Linked DNA regions of Homo sapiens: regions 1 and 3 are each linked to region 2. The links come from fine-mapping of genetic effects on plasma protein levels. A gene starts in region 2. Each other region holds a variant in brackets. All regions are shown on one strand. Distances are between the middles of the regions.

What was found. PIP is the posterior inclusion probability: the model's chance that the variant is causal. Protein levels are from antibody-based Olink assays in UK Biobank. Linkage for the fine-mapping came from a reference panel and not from the study's own genotypes, which makes the PIPs less certain.
Region 1: its variant is fine-mapped to the plasma level of the ST6GAL1 protein (UK Biobank, PIP above 0.99).
Region 3: its variant is fine-mapped to the plasma level of the ST6GAL1 protein (UK Biobank, PIP above 0.99).

What each region holds. Positions count from the first base shown.
Region 1 is chr3:186,617,724-186,625,904 of GRCh38, forward strand. It overlaps AHSG (alpha 2-HS glycoprotein), which reads left to right. Exons shown (of 7, transcript NM_001622.4): 5 at 813-914; 6 at 2,134-2,217; 7 at 2,863-3,595. The coding sequence ends at 3,207. Among named protein-coding and RNA genes, the nearest start is that of AHSG, 8.8 kb to the left of the region's middle. The variant C/T (reference allele first, on the strand shown) is at 3,052.
Region 2 is chr3:186,925,971-186,934,151 of GRCh38, forward strand. It overlaps ST6GAL1 (ST6 beta-galactoside alpha-2,6-sialyltransferase 1), which reads left to right and starts at 4,556. Exons shown (of 8, transcript NM_173216.2): 1 at 4,556-4,864. RefSeq lists enhancers at 4,171-4,779, 6,873-6,922, 6,943-7,002 and silencers at 4,467-4,546, 4,787-4,976.
Region 3 is chr3:187,018,426-187,026,606 of GRCh38, forward strand. The region is part of intron 2 of ST6GAL1 (ST6 beta-galactoside alpha-2,6-sialyltransferase 1); the gene reads left to right. Among named protein-coding and RNA genes, the nearest start is that of ST6GAL1, 92 kb to the left of the region's middle. RefSeq lists a promoter at 2,977-3,554, a cis regulatory region at 3,461-3,554, enhancers at 3,557-3,826, 7,436-7,765 and a silencer at 5,793-5,882. The variant G/A (reference allele first, on the strand shown) is at 3,464.

The DNA.
Region 1 (8,181 bases), 310 kb before region 2:
CGCTGAACATCTGCCACAGACTCGTAATTAATACTCACTTGTGCTGACAAGCTTATAATGGCAAGATCTTAAAATGCCTTTCGAGTCACTGGAGAAAACATCTCATTGTACTGTGGGTGGTTTAGCACATTGGAATTCAACAGAATTCAAATGTTTAAGAAAATGTATTCTGGATATCAGCCATGGCCATACTTGGAAATACGCTAGTATAGACGGCAATTCTATTAATCAGAATATGTGATTCTCAGAACATCCCCACCCCAGACTACACCAAATAACAGATATTTTATTGTGTCCATATGCTCCAACTACTTTAAAAAAGAAAAGCTCAAGTGATATCTTCCATACTTTCATCTAAATCTTTTCATTTGAGCCTGCTCTATGAAACAGGTGGAAGAGGTATTAATCTCTTCACTTTCCCACCCTATTTTGGAATAACCTGAACCTTGGGTATCAAGTGCAGCCCAAGAGTGAGGGCTGGGGGGAGGCAGGGTTCCCACTCCTATCAGTCTAATGCTGGCCTTCTGATTCCGGTTTCCTATCTGCAAACTCACCTCCACCCTGAAGGACCGGTGATGGATACTTGCCCCTCCTACAAGGAAGACACAACCCCTACCTCTAAAGCACAAGCACTTGAGAACACAACCCCATAGCAACTGCCCTATGTAAGCCATTGAGGGACATGTCTTCTGGGCCGACGCATGGTCTGCATGAATGGTGCTCCCCGAAGGAGGCTACTTCCCGCTCTCCTTCTCTGCCCTTTTCATTGTAAGTCATCTTTCCTCAAGAGCATTTTCATGTACTCTTCTCAGCCCCTCCCACCTTCTACCTATGTGGAGTTTACAGTGTCTGGCACTGACTGTGTTGCTAAAGAGGCCACAGAGGCAGCCAAGTGTAACCTGCTGGCAGAAAAGGTGAGTGGGCCGGGACCTTGGGGTGTTACCACTCGGACAGAGCTGTTTGTGGAACAGAACATCCTTGGATAGTTTGTATCTTGGGGCTGCAGACAGAGAATAACAGTGCAAATCCCCTCTCCCTGTGGATCACGGCAAGCCTTCTTTTAGGGTGTCACCTCATCCCTTTAAGAGCTGTCATCAAATCATCTCACCCACTGGAAGCACATGAAGTTAGGAGAAAGAGAGAGGCTATTTGCTAATGAAGCCAAGTCACGCCCACCCACTGGGAATGTGAAGTGCACATTTTCTAGACATATAACTCTGATACAAAAGCTTTCAAGTCCTTGAGCCAATAATGTACACTTCTAGGATTTTAGTCTAAAGAAGTCATCAGTGGCCAGGCATGATGGCTCATGCCTGTAATTCCAGCACTTTGGGAGGCCAAGACGGGTGGATCGGGAGGTCAGGAGATCGAGACCATCCTGGCTAACATGGTGAAACCCCGTCTCTACTAAAAATACAAAAAAATTAGCCAGGCTTGGTGGTGAGCGCCTGTAGTCCCAGCTACTCGGGAGGCTGAGGCAGGAGAATGGTGTGAACCCAGGAGGCAGATGTTGCAGTAAACTAAGATCGTGCCACTGCACTCCAGCCTGGGCAACAGAACGAGACTCTGTCTCAAGAAAAAAAGAAAAAGAAAAAGAATTCATCAGTGACATTTGACAGAATATATCTATAAAAATGATTTATTATGGATATAAAGAGACCAAAAAAGAGAGATCTGTATGTCCAACAGGAAGGTGTCATTGAATAATCCATGCACATCAGTAAATAGAAAATTGTGCAGACACTAAAAATTGTGTTTTCAAGGAATAATGAATGATATGAGAAAATGCTATTATGGCAAGTGAAAACACACAGGATACAACATCGTATAGTCACAATGATCTCAATTTTTAAATCATATTTAATAGTATTTTAAAATAAGAAAGAAATGCATCAATGTTAACAGTCCTTCTTTCTAGGCCACCACCAGAAAGGGATTATGGGTAATCTCTCTCACTCTCAAAGTATTTCTGTATTTCCATGTTATATATAGAATCATATACCTCCCACAAGCAGAAACTATAACTTTAAGAAAAATGGTTTTTCAAACTAATTTAAGGTTGGCGCGTCAATGAAATTGGGGGGGATCCATTTTTGAAATTAGTTAAAATAAATCCTCTTTCTCTGTGGGCAGCAATATGGCTTTTGTAAGGCAACACTCAGTGAGAAGCTTGGTGGGGCAGAGGTTGCAGTGACCTGCATGGTGTTCCAAACACAGGTAACAGCTCCGTGAATATTCTTGCCTACACCTTCAGAATACAATGACCCCTTCACATTTATGCAGTGCAGTAGTGATGACAGGACATTTGCTCTCCTGTGCTTCTGAATCTCACAGTATGAAATAACACTGGGGTATGCGGAATCATCAACAAATGGAAGGATATTTTAGCTATGCCTTTCCCTCCCACGAACTAGTGACTACAGGGAAGAACCATCTTACTGTGTAGTTGACAAAGCCACCTTTTTATTTGTGGGAGGTGGGAGTGGTTTTCTGAGTTGCAGAGACCAGGTGGCCAGATCTACCTGTTAGCTCCCAGTGGCTGCAGCTTCAGATGACAAAGAGGGTGGCACTGCTGGGCAAGGGTGAGCCATAGGTGGGGTGCTTTTACTCATTGGACATATGCGTGTAAGTCCACCATCACAAAGACAATCCTAGTGAGGCCGGGGCCAACATAGGCCAGTCACCCCTCCTTGTAACCTTGATGACAATCCCTTGTACTTGGGTAGGTCCTTTCTTGCTAGACTCTTTGCAAATAAAAATGTATAATGTGAGGAAATTGGGTGCCAGTGCCACCTGGGCCTGTGGGTTGTCTTGCCTGGGAGGAGGAAGCAAACTAACTGAAGGAAATGGTCCTTTTTCCAGCCCGTGAGCTCACAGCCCCAACCAGAAGGTGCCAATGAAGCAGTCCCCACACCCGTGGTGGACCCAGATGCACCTCCGTCCCCTCCACTTGGCGCACCTGGACTCCCTCCAGCTGGCTCACCCCCAGACTCCCATGTGTTACTGGCAGCTCCTCCAGGACACCAGTTGCACCGGGCGCACTACGACCTG[C/T]GCCACACCTTCATGGGTGTGGTCTCATTGGGGTCACCCTCAGGAGAAGTGTCGCACCCCCGGAAAACACGCACAGTGGTGCAGCCTAGTGTTGGTGCTGCTGCTGGGCCAGTGGTTCCTCCATGTCCGGGGAGGATCAGACACTTCAAGGTCTAGGCTAGACATGGCAGAGATGAGGAGGTTTGGCACAGAAAACATAGCCACCATTTTGTCCAAGCCTGGGCATGGGTGGGGGGCCTTGTCTGCTGGCCACGCAAGTGTCACATGCGATCTACATTAATATCAAGTCTTGACTCCCTACTTCCCGTCATTCCTCACAGGACAGAAGCAGAGTGGGTGGTGGTTATGTTTGACAGAAGGCATTAGGTTGACAACTTGTCATGATTTTGACGGTAAGCCACCATGATTGTGTTCTCTGCCTCTGGTTGACCTTACAAAAACCATTGGAACTGTGACTTTGAAAGGTGCTCTTGCTAAGCTTATATGTGCCTGTTAATGAAAGTGCCTGAAAGACCTTCCTTAATAAAGAAGGTTCTAAGCTGAATGTGGTCATGCTTATTGCGACTTCATCCCAGCTCCCCTCACATGCATAGCCTTTTACCCCAACAAACACAGTGTCCCTAATCAAAATCAAAGTGAAAAGAGAACCAAAAGAGAACAAAAACCTGCTGTATTGCCAGATACAGGAAAAAGTGAGACTAGGATCTTTCCACAACCCATAAGATGTGACCATTTCTTTTTTTTTTTTTTTCTGAGACGGAGTCTTACTCTGTCACCCAGGCTGGAGCGCAGTGGCATGATCTTGGCTCACTGCAAGCTCCACCTCCCAAATTCAAATGATTCCCCTGCCTCAGCCCCCTGAGTAGCTGGGACTACAGGTGCGTGCCACCACACCCAGCTAATTTTTTTTATTTTAGTGGAGACAGGGTTTCACCATGTTGGCCAGGATGGTCTTGATCTCCTCAACTCATGATCCACCCACCTCGGCCTCCCAAAGTGCTGGGATTACAGGCGTGAGCCACCGCACCTGGCCAAGATATGACCATTTCTTTATGAGAAAATAATTCTTCTCATTTTATAAGAGAGAGAAAATATTGCTAAAGGTGGGCCAAGCTCCTGAACTTTGTACAGAATAAACTATCCATTGATTTTCTCCAGTACCGAGGTAAGGAGGGATTGGTAATTAAAACAAGATCCTCACTTTATATCTGTTGTTAATTATGTTTAAGATATACGTTGAGTGTACTGTATACACTTCATTTTATAACACAAGATTGGTCTTCCTAGCCAATCTATTTTAAGGACCCAAGTTAAAGCTGTGACTTGTAGTATCATTAGATAAAGGATGCCTGGACAGGTGAATCCCGTGGACATTTGTAGACACCGTCCAAGTGCTCAGATAGCATATGTGAATAAACCCTCCCCATTTTAGCATGGTCCCTGGGCAATTTCAATTTTTGTCCATCAGCATTAAGTTTTTCCGATCTACCTCAGTGATGGGCCCTTTCAGATGGAATTTTAGAGGGCAGGACTGACACCCAGTTGAGTGACTTCACTTTAAACCAAGGAGAATGAATCAAGTGTTGACACTCACCTTATCACTTGTGCCTAGAGGTTTTGCCAATATTCCAGTAACCAAAAGGAAAGGCCAGAAAGGTAAGAAAACCACTAGGTGTCACGGAAGCCAGAGAAGAAGCTATGGGCAGCTGTGCTAAATGCTGTAGAAAGAGCAGTAAGGACGACTGACTCTGAGGTCATGGTGACCACTGGCAGATGCAGTTGCTCTAGGGGCATCCTGGTTGTCAAGAGTTTACTGGTGTTGTTGCTGTAGGGAGACTGGAGAGTGGGCTGTAGCTGGGCAAGAGTAGCCACAGGATAGAAAGTCACTAGAGCTTTCTAGAGAAAAGATTAACATGAGTTGGTCTAAGGTGGTGGGCAGTGGACATGATAAAAAGAGGTTATAATTTGGAGGTAGAACTCCCAAGACCTGCTGATGAATTTGATATGGGAGTGAGAAAGACGTGAAGGATGATGATTCCTGGATTTGTGGCTTTGTGAACTGGATAGATGTGTGTGTGTGTGTGGGGGGGGGGCATTTACTGAGGCAGTGAATTCTAGTTTGTTTCATTTGCATTACCTCAGTTTCCCTCCTCTCCAACTTAAAATTCGTGCAGATGATTTTTCTATGTCTATTTTTCTGTGTCTGGCTAATGCATGCCTTGATCTCATGTCTCTCAAAGAAGCAGTGAAGTCACATAGACCTGCAAAACCTGAGCCAAGCTGCTTCACCTTTCACTTCTTTCTGCCCACATTATACAACCAGACATAGATAACAGCTGATGTACTGGTGTTGGGAGGATTAAATGAGATGCTACAAATTTATGTATGACACCTTCTTGACACATTCTAGGTTCTCAGTAAGTGCCCTCCCTTTCTGCTGCTGCTCCTCATCCTCTGAATTTGGTGGCCTCAGAAGATTATGTTGTTGACCTTCTCTTAAATATGTACTCTGCTTGGCAAGTTTATCCTCTCTCATGATTTAAACTATCATTGTTACCCAGATAACTGCAACTTAATAGCTCCAGATTGGACCTCTTTATTGAATTCTAACATTGCATTTCCAAATACCTTCAGGATTTCCTCACTAGAATTACCTAAAACAGTTTCCTATGTGACTTGTTTCCTCTAAATGATGCATATCTGGAGACAGCATTATTCAAAATGTGCATTATTTTAAAATTACTTATTCCCAATAATAATAGAGAGAATGAGTTACAGAGCTGTTAAATCTACCACCCTTATAGCACATTTTTTGTATTAATGCTGCTCGGTACTTTCTTAACATTATTATTTTACAGAGTGTTCTCTCCTAAATTAATAGCATTACATATGTCTCATTTCTTTGCCTTCTTAGTGGATTTTAATCATGTCTAACACATGTTTCAAAGTTATTGGATTTCAGGTGCATTTTTCCATACTTGTGTCACTACTACCAATTAAGAATATTTGGTGGATGTTAAGATAATACAAAAATTGTCCAGGCACGGTGGCTCATGCCTGTAATCCTAGCACTTTGGGAGGCCAAGGCAGGTGGATCACCTGAGGTTAGGAGTTGGAGACCAGCTTGATCAACATGGTGAAACACCGTGTCTACTAAAAATACAAAGTTAGCCGGGCGTGGTGGTTGCGGTGAGCTGAGATCGTGCCATTGCACTCCAACCTGGGCAACAAGAGCGAAACTCCATCTCAAAAAAAAAAAAAAAAAAATTCTGTACTAGTAGGCTGGCTAGTGAAATGATGTTATCTTCACTCCATTGACTACTTTGCAGAAATTTAAAATCATGTTTATAAAAAAGTAACAATTAAATGTTATTAAAAAGTAACAATTCATATAGAAAAACATTGATAATATATTTTGAAATGAAAAAAGTGGGTTATAAAGTGGTATAATCCTGAATTTCTAAAATTAATTTATATATGTAGACATATTAATATACACATACAGACATAAAAAATTACCAAGTAACAGGAAGAAAAACTAAAATACTAACAGTGGTTATATCTGAATTATGGAATAATGGGGAGCTGCTTTTCTTTGTTGTATTAATGCTTTGTCTTATTTCCTAAACTTTCTATAATGCTCAAGTTTTACTTTCGTAGAAAGATATTTTTATTTTGTTTGTCCAGAATAGGGGTTAGAAAACGTTTTAGTGAAGGACCAGATAGTAAATATCTTTGGTGTTATGGACCATGTGGTCTCTATTTCAATGCAACTCTGCTATTTTAGGAAGAAAGCAACTATAGCCAATATATAAATGAATAGGCATGGCTGTATTCCAATAAAACTTTTATTACAAAATTAGCAGTGAGCTGAATTTGGCCTTTGGCTATAGTTTGCCAGGGTGGCCTAGAACAGTGGAAATAAGGAGAAATCGAGTTGGGGGGAAAAATGGCAGTCAAAGAGTAGATCAGTTTCACATGGAGTTAGATGCTGGTCTCTGGTATCAAGCTGGTCAAGCGAGAAAGAAGTAAGGGTGTTGTCTGTACAGAAGATGAATCCATGTGAATAACGACAAGGTGAAGGTGGAGGGCAGGAGTATAAGCCAGGAGACAAAGATGTTAGCAATACAGAGAGGCCAGTAAGTCAGAAGATGGCAGGAACAGGAAGAGGAAAGTGTCTGCAAGCTAGGTGGCATGGTCCTCAAAGAAAAAGCGTTCTTTTGTTTTGTTTTGTTTTTGTTTTTGTTGTTTTCGCTCTTGCTGCCCAAGCTGGAGTGCAATGGTGCGATCTCGGCTCACCGCAACCTCTGCCTCCCAGGTTCAAGCGATTCTCCTGCCTCCTCCCAAGTAGCTGGGATTACAGGCATGCACCACCATGCCCAGCTAATTTTGTATTTTTAGTAGAGACGGGTTTCTCCACGTTGGTTGGGCTGGTCTCGAACTCCCGACCTCAGGTGATCTGCCCACCTCGGCCTCCCAAAGTGCTAGGATTACTGGTGTGAGCCACAACACCCGGCCGAGAAAAAGGGTTTTATGCGAGCACAGAGGACTAATATCCTGGAAGTAACATTGGAAAATGGGGAGGATACCAATGTTACTAAAAATAAGCATCCATTCCAGAGTTGTTATGGAGAAGTTGTGCTTGAGCAAAAGTGAGACTCAAGTTGAGCACAGAAAATGACTCAATTAGTAGGGCAGGTAGTCTTTTATCCACTATGGAATGGAAATTTCAGAAGGCACGGTGGAAGGATTTGGGCAAAGGAGGCATATCTGATGGTACAGCAAGTCGAGGAAGAGGAAGCAGAAAGCGAAAAGAGATGATACTGCTGAGAAAGGACAGACAACAAAAAGAGTTCTGTTTGAGGCATATCAAGCTTTCAGGAGCTAGGGTCCGGAATGAGTAGGCAGCAGCCTGCCTTGATCGTAGTTTGATGATTCAGGTCAAGACCAGGCCATGGGATGAATGAACTCTCAGGCCCTCAATACAGGAAGCAATGGCAATCTCTGGAGGATGGGAGGACTTTTCCGAACTGGATAGCTGCCAGCCCCGTTCTGGAATCCCATCTCATCCATAGCCCACATATAGCTATGTTTCCTTGGGTCTCCACTGAGACAAGCCATGGCTATAAC
Region 2 (8,181 bases):
TATTCTCTCTCTCTCTCTTTTAATAAAGAAAAGGAAGTCATTTCTTATAGTTATGGAGGCTGAGGAGTCCAAGGTCAATGGACTGTATCTGGTGAGAGCTTTCATGCAAGTGGGGAGTCTGCAGAGTTCTATAGTGGCACAGGGCATCACACGGCAAGGGGGCTGAGCATGCTGCTATTTTCTTTCTACTTTTAAACTTGAGTTCTACAGACTTAGTAGACTAGCTGTGAACATATATATATATATATATATATATATATATATATATATATATATATATATATATAAAATCATCCATAAGGCTGGCAGCACTGAAAGCCAACATGGTGGGCACAGGCAAACCACAGTTCTTTTAGGCCCCGAACCTATCCTCATATTAGACAACATGTACTGAAGAGGAGACGTGATATGAAGAGGAGAGCTGTGAGGTTTATTTAAGGAACTTGATGAACATCTGTAGTGGGTGGGGAAGAAAGATTTGGGAGGAAATTTTCAACTGCTTATTGTCTTTTTTTTTTCCCCTCATGAAACATCACCTCCAATTCAAGAGTGTTATGAACATATTATTTGCAAGTGGATTGTTGTAAATGAAAATTATGTGTATTAATCCGTAAGATGTCTGAAATGATGACTGAGCAATGCATTACCTAAAAATATTATATATTGGCTAAGGTTGAGGTCAAGGGTTGGGGGAGGGATGGGGAATGTGTTAGTCTGTTTGGGCTGCTATAACAAAAACACCATAAATCGGGTGGCTTGTAAACAACAGGAGTTTATTGCTTATGGTTTTAGAGGCTGGTAAGTCCAACATTAAAATAATGGCAGACTTGGTGTTCAGAGAAGGCTCAGTCTCCTGGTCATAAGTGGTACCTTCTAGCTGCAGCCTCACATGTTGGAAGGGGCTAGCTAGCTCTCTGGAGTCTCTTTTATTTTACTTTTTAATATTTATTTATTTATTTACTTATTTTTGAGAGAGAGTCTTGCTCTGTTTGCCCAGGCTGGAGTGCAGTGGCGTGATCTTGGCTCACTGCAACCTCTGCCTTCCGGGTTCAAGCAATTCTCCTGCCTCAGCCTCCCGAGTACCTGGGACTACAGGTGACTGCCACCACGCCCAACTAATTTTTTGTATTTTTAGTAGAGATGAAGTTTCACCATGTTGACCAGGCTAGTCTCGAACTCCCGACCTCAGGTGATCTGCCCGTCTCAATCTCCCAAAATGCTGGGATTACAGGTGTGAGCCACCATGCCTGGTCCGGGTCTCTTTTATAAGGGCGCTAGTTCCATTTGTGAGGGCTCTGCCCTCATAACCTAATCACCTCCTCCAGATGCCCCACCTCCAAATACCATCATCTTGGGGGTTAGGAATTCATTGTACGAATTTTGGGGGGATACAACATGCAGACCATAGCAGGAAGCTGTGGGTGGAGGGCCCAGAACTGAGATACTGTCCAGAGGGAAAGTGGGTATCTGTACTTCTCAAAAAAACCAAAACCAACCTGTCAAGGCAGGGACCCCAGAGAAAATGGGAGGAGAAGCCTCACATGTATAGACTGGGAGGACAGGATCATCTCCAAAGTAATGCCCCAGCCTCTGCCTCTCACTTATAGGTCAGAGGGTCCTAAGTGATAAGAGAGAACCTTGGTGGAGGCTGCTCCACAATGGCCCCCATCCTGGAATTTTACCAGGAGCACCCTTGCTTGCCCACTCATCTGTCTCAGACGCCCAGGAAATTTTTGCACGTGTCATATCATCTGTGCTTATCTCAGTGTTGAGATAACCTTTTCCCTTGTTTTCTCCTTAATTTGGTTTTCCAGTTCTCTGCAAAAGAGAACTGCGGAGTGGGGACTGGACAACCTCTGAAAGAGCGCCTTCTGCTTTTGTGGAGTGCAGTGGCGTGATCTCGGCTCACTGTAAGCTCCGCCTCCTGGGTTCACACCATTCTCCGGCCTCAGCCTCCTGAGTGGCTGGGACTACAGGCGCCCGTCATCGCGTGCCCGCCTAATTTTGTTTTTGTATTTTTAGTAGAGATGGAGTTTCACCATGTTAGCCAGGATGGTCTTGATCTCCTGACCTGTGATCCGCCCGCCTCGGCCTCCCAAGGTGCTGGGATTACAGGCGTGAGCCACCACGCCCAGCCCCGGTTAATTTGTTTTGTGTTTTTAGTAGAGACAAGGTTCCACTGTGCTAGCCAAGATGGTCTTGGTCTCCTGACCTCATGATCCGCCCGCCTAGGCCTCCCAAAGTGCTGGGATTACAGGCGTGAACCACCGCACCAGGCTGTTCTTAGTTCTTAAGTAATGTTGACATATGGGTGATGATGAAGGAGATGATTAAAGCTTTCAAAGAAAGTGGAAGAATGTGTCAAATTCTCTCTTCACTTCCTAGATGACTTCAGTTTCCTAATCCATAAAATAGGACTAAGACCATTACTTATCTGATGAAAAGGAGAGACAATGTAATAAATAAGGTGCTTTGAATCCTGTATTAGTCCATTGTCACACTACTGAGAAAATTATAAATTACCTGAGACTGGGTAATTTATAAACAAAAGAGGTTTAATTGACTCACAGTTCCATATGGCTGGGGAGGCCTCAGGAAACTTATAATCATGGTGGAAGGTGAAGGGGAAGCAGGGCACATCTTACATGGCGGCAGGTGAGAGAGAGAATGCAGGGGAAATGCCAGACACTTATCAAACAACCAGATCCCGTGAGAGCTCCCTATCACAAAAACATCATGGGGGAAACCGCCCCCCACGATCCAATCACCTCCCAGGAGGTCCCTCCCCTGACACATGTGGATTACAATTCAAGATGAGATTTTTGGGTGGGGACACAGAGCCAAACCATGTCAGATCTCCAAATGGTAGCTATTATTTAGATGTCCTTTTCTTCTGTCTTGTTACAGTCACTGACACAGTTCAGGCTCTTATTATATCTCCATTGATGTCAGCTTCCAATCTAGTCTCTTGCATTCTCTGCTTCTGCCATCTATTTTCCAGTGTGGTGCCAGAGGAATCCTTGTAAAATACAAAGATGCATGTCATGCTACTGCACAGAATCTTTTAATAGCCTCCTTTTTTTTTTTCCCTTTTTCGAATAGGGCCTAAAATCTTCAATGTAGCATCCTTCCAGAAATAGTCTTCTGAACTTGGCTGCTTCTATTCATTCACGCATACATACATTTTACTGTCAGGAGCACCTTCTATATGCCAAACACTAAGCTACGTGTTTCACGTAGGTCATTTCACAGGATCCTGAAAACAACGCTTTCCTTAATATCTCCATTTTGCAGAAGAGGAAAGGGAGGCTCACAGGATGTGGAACTCACCCAAGAAGGCACAGCGAGTTGGTCATAAAGATTTGAATTCACTCTGGCTGGCACTCCCTTCAATTGGAGCTCTTTGTACTGAGCAAAAATGCCTCAGGGGCAGCAGGGAAGGGAATGACAGTATCAGCAGAAGGGAGCCAGGATCAGGACAGGGAGGAAGCAGTGTTTGGAAGAAGGGTGCTGGGGACAGGGTGCGGATGTAACTTCCCTTTCCAAGGTTGGTGATGTGGGGTAGGCACCTCATTTGGAGACAGAACTCTGGGCCTGGGCTTCAGGCACTTTAAGTGTGCACTGGACTTTGTGTTCCCAGAGGACCCCCAAACCTTCCAGTATCTCCTTCCTTTCCCCTTTCCCACCCAGCACACAGCCTGGTGCCTAGTGTGCACTCAGTAGACAACTGGGATATGACTATTGCCTCTGGTAGTCACATCCTCTCTTTGGGCTATGGGAGGCTGGACTGGAGGCCTTAAAGGCCCCTTCCGCCCTCCTGTTGGGCAGTTTTTCTTTCTTAGGGAAATCGCCTTGGGGCTATCGGGGATGGTCAGTACGCAGCTTGGTTAATCCTCTTTCCTTCCCCAGCAGCCCCACCGTCGTCCGGGTGAAAAGAAAGAACCTCGCTCCCTTCACCATCCAGGCTGAGGCTTCAGTCTTTCAGCCTGCAGCTTGGGGTGGAAGCCTCTGGGTGCAGGGGTTCGAGGACGCTCCTCTCCTTCTGTATTTGCCATTTGAGAGCGCCCAGTAGGAGTCATGCCTCAATGTTAGGAGGTTAATGCCAAACGCAGTGAAAGATTTTGTTCTTTCCTATTCTAGATAAGAGCAACACGAGTCTTCGGAGAGGTTAAGCGACTTCCTCAGGGTCTCGCAGTCAGCCGGTAGCAGAGACCGGGTGTACAGCACCCGCATGTTAGGACCAAAAGCCGGACACTGCTGGATTGACCCCTCGCGGCCAAGCGGGGAAGAGGCATTTAGGGGTCCTTGCGCAGCCGCGTGGCCCCTCCCACTCGGCCCTCGATCCACCCTCCTTGAGAGCAGGCAGGATTCTAGCATCACCCAGTGCCTTCATCAAGAGTCTTTAACCCCAAGCCCGCTCGCTAGCGACCTCCAGGCCGGTTTGGGGCGCGGTGTGGCCGGTGGCGAGAGGTGGAGTGGGGGCGGAGACCGACCCAGTCTTCGCAACTCTATTTGCATACGGAGGCGACTCGCTTCCTTCCCGCCCCTCCGCCGCGCTCTTCTTCCTTCCTTCTCCAGTCCCTTCCACTGTGCGTCTTCTGTCCCCCGTTCTTCCCCAGCGGACCCCTCTTTCGAGACTCCCTAGTGGGGTCCCCAGCTCCCGGGCGATCCTGCCCTTGCCGAGCGCGTTTTCTGGAGTCACCTGGGGGAGGGGAGTCCTGGGCAGGGCCGGGCTGGGGAAGACGCCTGGGGCACTGCCCGGCGTTAACAAAGGGAGCCGATACCGACCGGCGTGGGCGCGGAGCGGGCGGCCGCCACCGAGCGTGCTGAGCAACCGCAGCCTCCGCGGCCGAGAGTGCAGCGAGTGAGTAGGGGGTGCGGTGGGCGGCGGCGCGGCCCGGGCTATCCCGGGAGGAGTGTGATGCAAAGGGGCGCGGGAGGATAGCGGAGGCGCGGGGCCCGCGGCGCGCGTAGGGCGCAGGGAATCTCTCTCCAGCTCCGCCTCAGCTGCCTTGGCTCCGGGGCTGGCCGCCTTTTGGTTGGGGGTGTGTGCATTTTTGTCAGGGCCAAAGGGCCACCCTGGCTTCTCTCTGGCTCCGCGAGCCTGCGGATCCACAACAAACCCACGTGCGCACAGCCCCGGGGAACACGGATTTCTCCACGGCACCGTCAGTATGGGGTGGGGTGGCGTGGGGGCATTGCGCCTTGCAGAGTCTGGGTTTACGGATCGACAAATTGAGGCCCGCGGCAGCGGAGGGGGCACAGGCACCATAACAAACGCACGTGCGCCCTGCCCGGAGAGCTGGACGCACTGCATACCCTTAGGGGCCGCCCTGCGGTGCCGGGCCATTGTCTCAGCCTCGGGGGAGGGAGTGGCTCTAGAGGCGCCACTTGCTGGAAGAGGGCGAGAGAGACATTTAAAAGGTACCGCTTGGGCATCAGACTAAACTGCCAGACTTAAAAAGGGAAACCAAAACAAGAAAGCAGCTACAAAAAGGTTACTCCAGGCTGAGTCGGTCCCCGGCCGTGGCGCATTCTTTTGGGTGAAGTGGACCACCCCTCACCTTCACCTCCTGGAGGTCTCTTAGAGATGTGGGTTGGGTTAAGGGTCTAAGGGTGCCCCTCAAAAAAAGAGAGTGCTGGGTGCACTATTGTCCCCGCACTCCGGCGATTGCCTCTGTGGGGATATTTTGGTCGCCTCCTCAGCCTGCGGGAAGAATGTACGAGTCGCCCAGTGCGGTCTTGCTCTTTGCCTCTGAGGCCCGTGTCCGTGTGCCCAGACACCCCAGATGTCACTAGCCCCTTTTGGCTTGTTAATGCATTTTCGCAAGCAAGGCCAGCCGAGACCTCGTATTCTAGCTGGGGACGTACAATTTTCAGTTCTGAGTTTATTTGAAAGAAATTCCGAGGTCCGGAAAAAGAGAACTCTTGTTTGTTTTGCTTTTTCTTTGCTTACATATGCTCAGCTCAGCTTTGCAGATGTTAATCGGACACGATCTGCAGCGGGGAGATGGTTTCGCGGTGAATTGGTCTCTGAGGCGATGGTGTTGGTGCAGGTTGTGGGCGTGCAGTGTGAGCAGGAATGGAGGCGCCGCCGCCCCAGTGTGTGCCTGCTGAGCGGGCGGGCTGCTGCCTCACCTTGGCTAGTGTGGCTGAAGATTAACCTGTCCCCGGGGGGGGAACTGGAGAGCCTCCAATCCTATTCCGCTGTTATTGAAAAGGTCTAGAGAGCATCTAGGGAGCCTTCTCATTTTACAGGCAGGAAGCTGAGGCCGGAGAGTTCAGCCACTTGTCCAAGTTTAAACCGGGTGAAACGGGCCACAGAGAGAACACTTGAGTGTGGGTCTCCCAACTCCCACTGCATCGCTCAGCGGGCAACTAAAGGCAAAACCGGGATTCTGTGATTGGCCTAAAAGGCAGTGGCCTTAGGCAGAATAGGGTGAAACAAAGAGTAATTCAAATAGAAAGCTGCACCCTTCCATTATCCCTTTCAAGAATTCTTTATTCTGTTGAGAAAAAATAGATTTAGTAATTCCTTACTCTCCTTCAAGCCTTTCAAAAGCTTAGTTATTTTTCTCTCCTGGCTGCCCCTTCCCCTCAAATTGGAATAAGGCCAGCTACGGAGACTCAGATGTTTTGCCTCTCATCCTTGTGCCAGGAGGCCTTTGTTTGGGCAAAAGCATGGGCTGTTGACATCAGCCCCACGGGGAAGAAAGTGTGTCTTAGCAAGCTACTCCTGAGCCACTTGTGGGAGAACAAAGCATTGTTTTCACTGATCTTATTAAAGTTACTTTTTTTTTAACGAGAGTCCCATGGAAGTAGCTGCTTATTTTTGTATTTGGCAGAGAAGTAGGAAAACCAAAAAAACACTGAGAAGCCGGATTTCCCCAAAGTTAACATGTTGTTTTGCACTGTGCCTGTTATCTCCTAGTTACACTTGTTTCTTTTCCTTAGAGTTTCCAGCGTGTTTCACTTTCAATGTGATTCTGGTAGCAACAGGAGGCAGCTGGATGCCTAGGCAGATAGGGTCAGGTACCCGGTGAAACCCCCACCTCCAGGCCAAAGACAGTTTAAAGCCTGAAAGCCAAGCTACGAGTTAAATCCTCAGACCAGAGTGAGAACTTGTTTGGCGTGCTTTCCCCTAATTGATTCCTACATTTCGCCTGTTTTACATATACCCACTTTTTCCTAATTGGTTTTCTACGCTGCCGTGCCCACCTTTGAGTGGTGTCTTTGCTTTCATCTTTTTTGCATACTCACAAACCGGTCAGCATGCACTCCCTATTCTGAGTCCATAAAAGGCCCCTGACCCAGCCACATTGGGGAACTTTTCCGTCTTCAGGTAGGGGACCAACCCGGTGTCCCCTCTCTGCTGAAAGCTGTTTTCAACACTCAATAAAATTCTTATCTGCCTTCCTCTCCCTTCAATGTCCAGTGTATCCTCATTATCCTTTGGTGTGGTGCACGAGCTCGGAACCACCGAACGCGGGTACAAGCTATAATACAGTGAGCTGGGACACACCTGCATGGCCGAGCGAGCACAGGTGGGGCATTGCTGGCCCGAGGACCAAGAAGAAAAATCCTACATCAATTCCTCTTGGCACTGCAGTATAGTTTTCTCACCAGGACGCTGACCCTGTAAGGAACTTCAGAAATCATGTGACTGGACCCTTTTACTTTCCAGATGGGAAAAGTGAGGCCTAGAGAAGAGAAATTGCTTGCCTAATGATACACAACAATGCGTGGTCTACTTTTAGTGCACCTTTTTGCGTAAAAGGGAAATGGTTGCATCAAACCAGTAGTTGTTGGTACTCCAGAGAAAAGCCAAAGTTATGGTTGTTATAACAACACCCTTTAAGTCAGAGAACCAATTCCTTATGGATTTAAATAGGTTTGGTTATTAAGCAAAGCCAGGGATCCCAGTAGTAGGTATGCTGAATAGTGCAATTATCTCTGGGGATCAGCTTTCTTTAGTGTTTGCTGAACGGTTCACTTTACTCTTGTGCTGGGTTCCTCCATGTCTCTGTCTTGTGCTTCCCCATTTAGGGGCTGCTTTGTATGAAATCATAAGGCAAGAGGCAGTGAGAAGACAGAAGAGAGAGGCGCCACTTAGCTGTTCATGCTACTTAACCTCTTGGGCTCCAGTTTCCTTCTTTGTACAGTGAGGGTTCTCCTTGCCCA
Region 3 (8,181 bases), 92 kb after region 2:
GTCATGGAACTATGTGAGGTCCCACATAGTCCATCTGCAGGTTGAGGAGCAGGAAAGCCAGTCCGAGTCCCACAGCTGAAGAACTTGGAGTCTGATGTTCGAGGGCAGGAAGCATCCAGCACAGGAGAAAGATGTAGGCTGGAAGGCTAAGGAAGTCTAGTCTATTCACATTCTTCTGCCTGCTTTTTATTCTGGCTACAATGGCAGCAGATTAGATGGTGCCCACCCAGATTAAGGGTGGGTCTGCCTTCCCCAGCCCACTGACTCAAATGTTAATCTCCTTTGGCAACACCCTCACAGACACGCCCAGGATCAATACTTTGCATCCTTCAATCCAATCAAGTTGACACTCCGTATTAGCCATCACAGGGGCATGCTAAGCAAGAATTGTGTCTATGGCTGTAATCACAAAGTTACGATTATTGGAGTAAGCTCCACAAACCAGAGTCCCTTGTCCAGGGCCTCCAGAGATCCACCAGACACTTGAGTATCTCGAAAAGCCAGATGGGAGAAGCACGTTCACCACGGCAAACCTGCGCAGCCAAGAAAATCAAGTTTCTTTGTTTTATGCTAAACTTTTATCAACTGACTGTGGTAGTCGTGGCAATCTCATGCCATTCAGAACCTCTGATTGGCAACAGTATCTTTGTTCATTTGATAACAAATAACTCAAATTTTAAATTAAAGTTAGTCGACAACATCTTTCAAAATCTTGGAATCGTGTCGGGGGAAACAAAATACAAGAGATATGATTTGATGTGAAAGAATTTAGGACCTCTTGGCTTTGATTAAATTAGGGTGTGCTTCTGTTGTTTCACTGGGATTGTGAAATGTTGGGATGAGGAGATATGAAAAATCTATAGCTGAATATTCTGTTGATGGTTTTAAACCATAGAAATAAATATTCAGGAAGTCTCTATTGAGTAGCTCTATAGGGTAATGCTAGCTGCTAGAGCAAATAAACTCACGTCTTAACCATCTTGGCCCAGAAGTGATGTATGTTATTTTTGCTCACATTTCTTTGCCAATAACTAGTAAAATGATCCCATCTATATGCTGTGTGTGTTTGTGTGTGTGTAAAATGCAATCCCTCTCTGGACAGTAATTTACAGCAATAACTATATGGCAGAAGGAGCAAACTTCTTGTGGGGCAGCCAGCTATCCCTGATATGAGGAAAGAGAAAGAAGGGTCAGCATTAAGTGGCAGCTCAGGTGGCACACATTAAGAATCCAAGCTCTTAGAGAAATGGGAGTCCTTCATGGGAGAGGGTTTCTGGCAGCCAGGACACATGGAGCCCCTCTCGGAGGCACTATGCCACCCTCTGGGGGCAACAGGGTGTCAAGCACTCTAAGTCTAAGAACAGAAAGTTTGGGTTCTAAGGTCCAGATGAGGGTGAGGTTTGTGCACTAAAGATTAAGGAGATGAAGATCAGGGCAGAGTAAATAGGTGTCACCAGAAGGTCAATACAGTGATTAGCAACTGTAGTTGGTGTGATAAAGCAGAGAGGCTCGCAGTAGCCCTTGGAAGGGCCTGAGTAGAGGGACATAGGATGAAGAGCACTACCAGTTTGTTGGTTAGAATAATCTGGTCAGCCGGGCATGGTGGCTTATGCCTGTAATCCCAGCACTTTGACAGGCTGAGGCGGGTGGATCACGAGGTCAGGAATTCAAGACCAGCCTGGCCAAGATGGTGAAACCACGTCTCTACTAAAAATACAAAAATTAGCCGGGCGTGGTGGCGGGTGCCTGTAATCCCAGCTACTCGGGAGGCTGAGGCAGAGAATTGCTTGAACCTGGGAGGTGGAGGTTGCAGTGAGCCGAGATTGCACTGCTTCACTCCAGCCTGGTAACAGAGCGAGACTCTGTCTCAAAAACAAACAAACAAACAAAAAACAAAACACACCGTGGTTTCACCATTTACAGTGACATCTTGAGCAAATGACTTAAACTCTCTGAGTTTCAATTTCTTTATTTAAAAAAGAGGATTGTTAATACCCCACCCCACAGGGTGGTGGTAAGAATTAAATTTGGTAACATCTATAAGACCTGCTGTTCATTACAGTTGATTCTTAAGGCAGCATCCGGTGATGCCTTTGAAACATACATCGGCAAAGTCTTAATCAGATGAAAGCCAAAACCCCTACACCTGTGTAAGGCGCCACATTATCTGGCTGCCCCTGTGTAGGTATTTTGCTGTTCCCTCTACTTGCAACCCTCTTTTCTCAGAAATCTGCATGGTAGCCTCCTTCATCTCTGTTAACAGAAAAACCAAATTCTGTAAAATATTTTCAAGAAGTTTATCCTGAGGCAATATGAGTTACTGTAGCTTAGAGAAAACACAAACCCAAGAAGCCTTGAGTGAGTGGCCCTGAGGCAGTTGGGCCATAGTCTGGTTTTATACATTTTAGGGAGACAGGCATTACAGGCAAGGATATCTGGAAATCAGTACATGGAAGGTAACTGGTAGTTCTGTCCAAAAAATGTGAGACATCTCAAAGTGGGGGAGGGTGCGGTGTTAGGATATATGTATTGGTGGTTTTTTTTTTTGTTTTTTTTTGAGATGGAGTCTCGCTCTGTCACCCAGGCTGGAGTGCAATGGCGTGATCTCTGCCCACTGAGCCTCTGCCTCCTGGGTTCAAGTGATTCTCCTGCCTCAGCCTCCTGAGTAGCTGGGATTACAGGAGCATGCCACCACGCCCGGCTAATTTTTGTATTTTTAGTAGAGATGGGATTTCACCATGTTGGCCAGGATGGTCTCGATCTCCTGACCTCGTGATCCACCTGCCTTGGCCTCCCAAAGTGCTGGGAATACAGGCGTGAGCCATCATGCCTGGACTATGTGTTGGTTTCCATGCATGTTTCCTGGCGCATAGCCCCATAGCCCTTGCTACAGTCTTGCTAGAATGCTGGGCTTTTTAGACTTCAGGGACAGGCCCTAAGAAACAGTCTCTCTCCTGCCGTCCTTTCACCTGCCCCAAGGCAAGGTTTTTATGTTTTCTGGCCTGACTGTGGGCCTTACAACCCTCCCATGAGGCCAGGCATAGTGGTTCATGCCTGTAATCCCAGCACTTTGGGAGGCCGAGGTGGGTGGATCACCTGAAGTCAGGAGTTCGAGACCAGCCTGACCAACATGGTGAAACCCCGTCTCTACTAAAAATAGAAAAATTAGCCGGGTGTGATGGTGGGCGCCTGTAATCCCAGCTACTCGGGAGGCTGAGGCAGGAAGAATTGCTTGAACCCGGGAGGCAGAGGTTGCAGTGAATCAAGATCATGCTACTGCACTCCAACCTGGGCGACAGAGCGAGACTCTGTCTCAAAAAAAAAAAAAAAAAAAAACCTTCCCATGAGAGGTTCCTACCCTATGCCCTGGGGGAAGAAATGCTGACGTCAAGGAAGCTTCTATAAAAACCCAAGAGGACAGGGTTGGGTGAACTTTCTGATAGCTTAATAGGAGGAGGTTCCT[G/A]TAGGGCGGCACAACCAGGGAGGGCGTGGAAGCTCTGCATCCCTTCTCCCATACCTTGCTCTACACATCTCTTCATCTGTATCCTCTGCAGCATCCTTGATGATAAACCAGTAAATGTAAGTAGGGTGTTTCCCTGAGTTCTGTGAGCCGCTCCAGCAAATTAATTGAACCCACGGAGAGGGGAACCCCAATGGAAGCTGGTTGGTCAGAAAGAAGTTCTGGAGGCCTGGACTTGTGACTGGTGGAGGGGGGATGTCTTGGACACTAAGCCCTCAATCTGTAGGATCTGACACTATTTCCAGGTAGATAGTGTTGGAACTGAATTAGAGGACACCAAGCTGGTGTCGCTGCTTGGTGTTGGGGTGGGACCCCCACACATATGGTCACATAAGTCATCTTCTGTGTTGATTGTTGTGGTGTGAGAGCAGAGGAAAGATGGCTACAGAGAGTTTTCCCTACACAGGGACTTGGGGGGTAGAGGGTTAGGGGAGGGCTGAGGGGCCTTACAAGTCTTAAGTGCGTTTTAGGGATTCTTTAGCTAACAGTAGCTGAGAGAGTCAAGTTATTGTCTAGTGACTTGAAGTCAGTAGGAAGGAATGCCTGAGTAAGATAAGGAGGTTGTGGGGGCCTAGGTCCTTGGAGCCTCATAGATAGCAGCCCTCTGGGTGAATAGATAGTGATTGTCTCTTCTCAGACCTTTGGGTGTCTGACTCTCAGTTAGAATCTCTCCTAGATCTGGGAAAGGCCTAGCAAGGGAAGAGACATTAATATCGATTCTCTGGAGATGCACGTTTCCCCCACCAAAGATGGCTTTGCAGTCCAAAGGCTGTCTGGCAGCCTTTTCCAAATATGTCAAAGAAATGTATTTTGGGGCAAAATATTTTAATTTCCTTCAGAGTCTGCTGTCTGTCATGTGATACTATACCAGAGTCAGGTTGGAGAGTAAGCCACATTTTACTGGGTTAATTAAAAAACCCATTTAATGAGACTGTATTGTTTCTAGGGTATGACTTAATCTTTGCCTTTTATGGCCTTAGGTATTGTGTATAGTTTGGTATCTTATTGTCATAAAGGGTCTGTTTGGTCAGTCTTATAATCTCTATTTTACCTTAATGCTGGTCACTTGTACCTAAACCCCAAAAGGGAGGGGTATGATGAGGGTGTAACCTCCTTTCTGTCATGGCTGGGAATTCAGTTTTTCAGGTTTCTCTGGGGTGCCCATGGCCAAAAAGGAGTCCATTCAGTTGGTTAGTGGGGGGCTTAGGATTTTATTTTTGGTTTACACCTCCTTCCAACCCTTGCTCAAATGTCTTCTTCTCAGTGAGGCTTTCTCTGATCATCTGATTTAAATCTCCACCTCACCCACTCCAAGCTGTCCCTATTTCTCTTCCCTACTCTAATTGTCTGCATATCAGTTATCTCCTTGCAAAGCACCACGGATTTATGTTGTTTGACTCTTTATTTATCCTCACTATAAGGTGAGTGCTGGAGGGGTTAGGGATTTCTGGCTGGCTTCTCTACTGCTGTGTCTGCAGTCTGGTTCACAGTAGGCAATCAGCATTTGCTGAAAGAATGAACCTATAGCTTGGAACCAACCCAAATGTCCAACAATGATAGACTGGATTAGGAAAATGTGCACATATACACCATGGAATACTATGCAGCCATGAAAAATGATGAGTTCACGTCCTTTGTAGGGACATGGATGAAGCTGGAAACTATCATTCTCAGCAAACTATGGCAAGGACAAAAAGCCAAACACCACATGTTCTCACTCATAGGTGGGAATTGAACAGTGAGAACACATGGACACAGGAAGGGGAACATCACACACCGGGACTGTTGTGGGGTGGGGGGAACGGGGAGGGATAGCATTAGGAGATATACCTAATGCTAAATGATGAGTTAATGGGTGCAGCACACCAACATGGCACATGTATACATATGTAACAAACCTGCACGTTGTGCACATGTACCCTAAAACTTAAAGTATAATAATAATTAAAAAAAAAAAAAAGAATGAACCTATCGCATGAGTATTGGTGTAAGTTTTCTTACAGGCCCCGGGGCCACCACAAAGTAGAAGAACTCAACCTTCCCTATTCATTTCCTCACCTCCAACTCCCTTAGACTACCAGGACTTAGATCCTTTTGGGTATATATATACATATATATGTTTTATATATATACATATATACATGTTTTGCTTGTTTGTTTGTTTTTTGAGACAAAGTCTCGCTGTGTCACCCAGGATGGAGTACAGTGGCATGATCTCTGCTCACTGCAATCTCCGCCTCCAGGTTCAAGTGATTCTCCTGCCTCAGCCTCCTGAGTAGCTGGGACTACAGGTGCATGCCTCCACGCCTGGCTAATTTTTTGTATTTTTAGTAGAGACGGGGGTTTCACCATGTTAGCCAGATGGTCTTGATCTCCTGACCTCGTGATCTGCCCGCCTCGGCCTCCCAAAGTGCTGGGATTACAGGCATGAGCCACCGCGCCCAGCCTAAATGTTTTATATATATATATACACACACACATATACTCTATATATATATACACACACACATATATACACATATATATGTGTATATATATATATATATATAGAGAGAGAGAGAGAGAGAGAGAGAGAGAGTATATGTGTATATATTTTAACAAAAAAAGCCTGGGAGAACCATTGAATTTGAAACCACCAAATCTCAACAAGCCTTGAAATCTAACACTCAGTTTAAGGAAACACAGAGCAGAGAGGAGAACATTAAACAACACCCTGAGGAAGCCGTGAGCCAGGCTCAGAACATAAGCCACTCCACAGGAGAAATGACTTCATTTTTTCAACAAATATATGCCGTGGAAAAGAAGAAGTAAGGGAGCGAGGAACTCTTCTAGATAAGAGAGAATTGAAAATGGCACATCATCCAGTCATCCAAACAAAATGTCCTGTCCTTGTTTGGATCCCCTTTTGAGCAGGTTAGTGTAAAAGACATTATTGAGAGAATTGGTAAACATTTAAAGGTGGGTTGGATATTGGGTGATATTGGCATTGTGATCATATTGAATTATTATTTATATTCATATATTCTCTGGCAGAACCTGGTGCGTGTGTGTGTGTGTGTGTGTGTGTGTGTGTGTCTGTGTGTGTGTGTCTCACAGTGTAGAGAATCTGAGGGTCTACGTTCTCAATTCTCCCAGGGGTGGTACGATTCTGCCAGGGGTGGTACGTAGGTAATTCTCGATGCCATGGGAGTTAGTTGATGCGTTGCATACAATGGAGGTCTTAGGACATTAAGGCTTAATTTTTTGTTGGATCCGCAGTTGGGAAGAGCTGGTAGCAGGAAACTGATACAAAGTCTGGCGTTTGCTTTAAATTACTCCAAGAAAAATCGAAGCAGTGTAGTAAAGATTAGGAGGTGAGACAGTTCCTCTTTCTGAGGAGATGGCGGGCCCGTTTTCTTCTTTGTCTGGCTCTCTGTAGCATAGGGGTGTGGTGTAGTGTAGGGATGTGGAGGAAAGAGTGGGTAGCTGTGTTGCTGGGGAGGGGTGAAGTGTTTTTTCCACTCTCTATATAGGCCCTTCCTGCGCTCTCCTCTGCTTAATGCTGATTTACCAAGCGGAGTGCAAATTGTGTGGTGAGCATGTGGGAGATGCCTCCTGGGGCTGGGGTGTGTAGTGGGGAGTGGGCATTATACAGAAAGGGAATTCATGGGGCACGAAAGGCCTACTTTTTGCCAGGCACCTGTCAAATAGGAAGGCAGATATTTCTATGAATACAAGTCTGTCTGTCTGTGCATGGGGTGCAAGGGTGAAGACAGTAGCAAATGGCTCATGATTTCCCTTTGCCATGGCTGTGTCAATCTGGAGTTCAGAGCTCTCCTAATCAGTTCCGAGTGGTTGGCTCTGGTCAGGGACCGCAGCCTGACCTCATGGTGGGGACACAACACCCCCCAACAAAGTTCTGTTCTCCAGACTCTTAGAAAACCTCTGGGGAAATGTACTCAGGGAAATGTTCTGAGGACTTCATTATCAGTGCTGCCTGGCTGGGAAAAGATGTAATCTCTGGTAAGAGACCCTTGGCAGGAGTGAAAGCCCTTTATCTTCAGGGCTTTGCTCTGGGCAGGATCTCCCCCTCCCCACCATGAGCCATGCAGGTGGGCCTGTCCTCAGGTAAACACTTGCCAACAGTCACAGCCTCTCAGGCACTGCGCGCCCCTCATGGCTTCCTTTCTTTCACTGTCTTCTCAGATTCACCAGCTACAAGTCGGTTTCTTGTTGCATATCATGCTTCTGACCTTTGCTGCGCTTTTGAGCAAAACGGTGACTTGTCAGAAATGTTTTGACAAATGATTAATGTTTTGACCCATGTTGGTTCCCGCTTGATAGAGCTCGGTGGGTAGGAGCTGGGGTGGTAGAGCCAGACAGCCTGGGCAGGCTCCTCTGGGGACTCTGTGAAGCACATGGTGATAACAGTGCTCGCCTTGGGCACTGTTGTTGCTGCAGGAATTAAATGAGCTTCACCAAATTACAGGACCTTTACTGCCTGTAAATTACTTAGCACATAGTAAAAGCTCATTAATTATTAGCTAAAATAAAGTGATAAAAATCTATCATTAAATTGTCAGCACAGCCCTGCAGAGGCAACCTTTTAAGTATTGTTATCCTTCGCAGATGAAGACACAAGGTTCACAGAAACTGACTAATTGGCCTAAGATAACTTACAG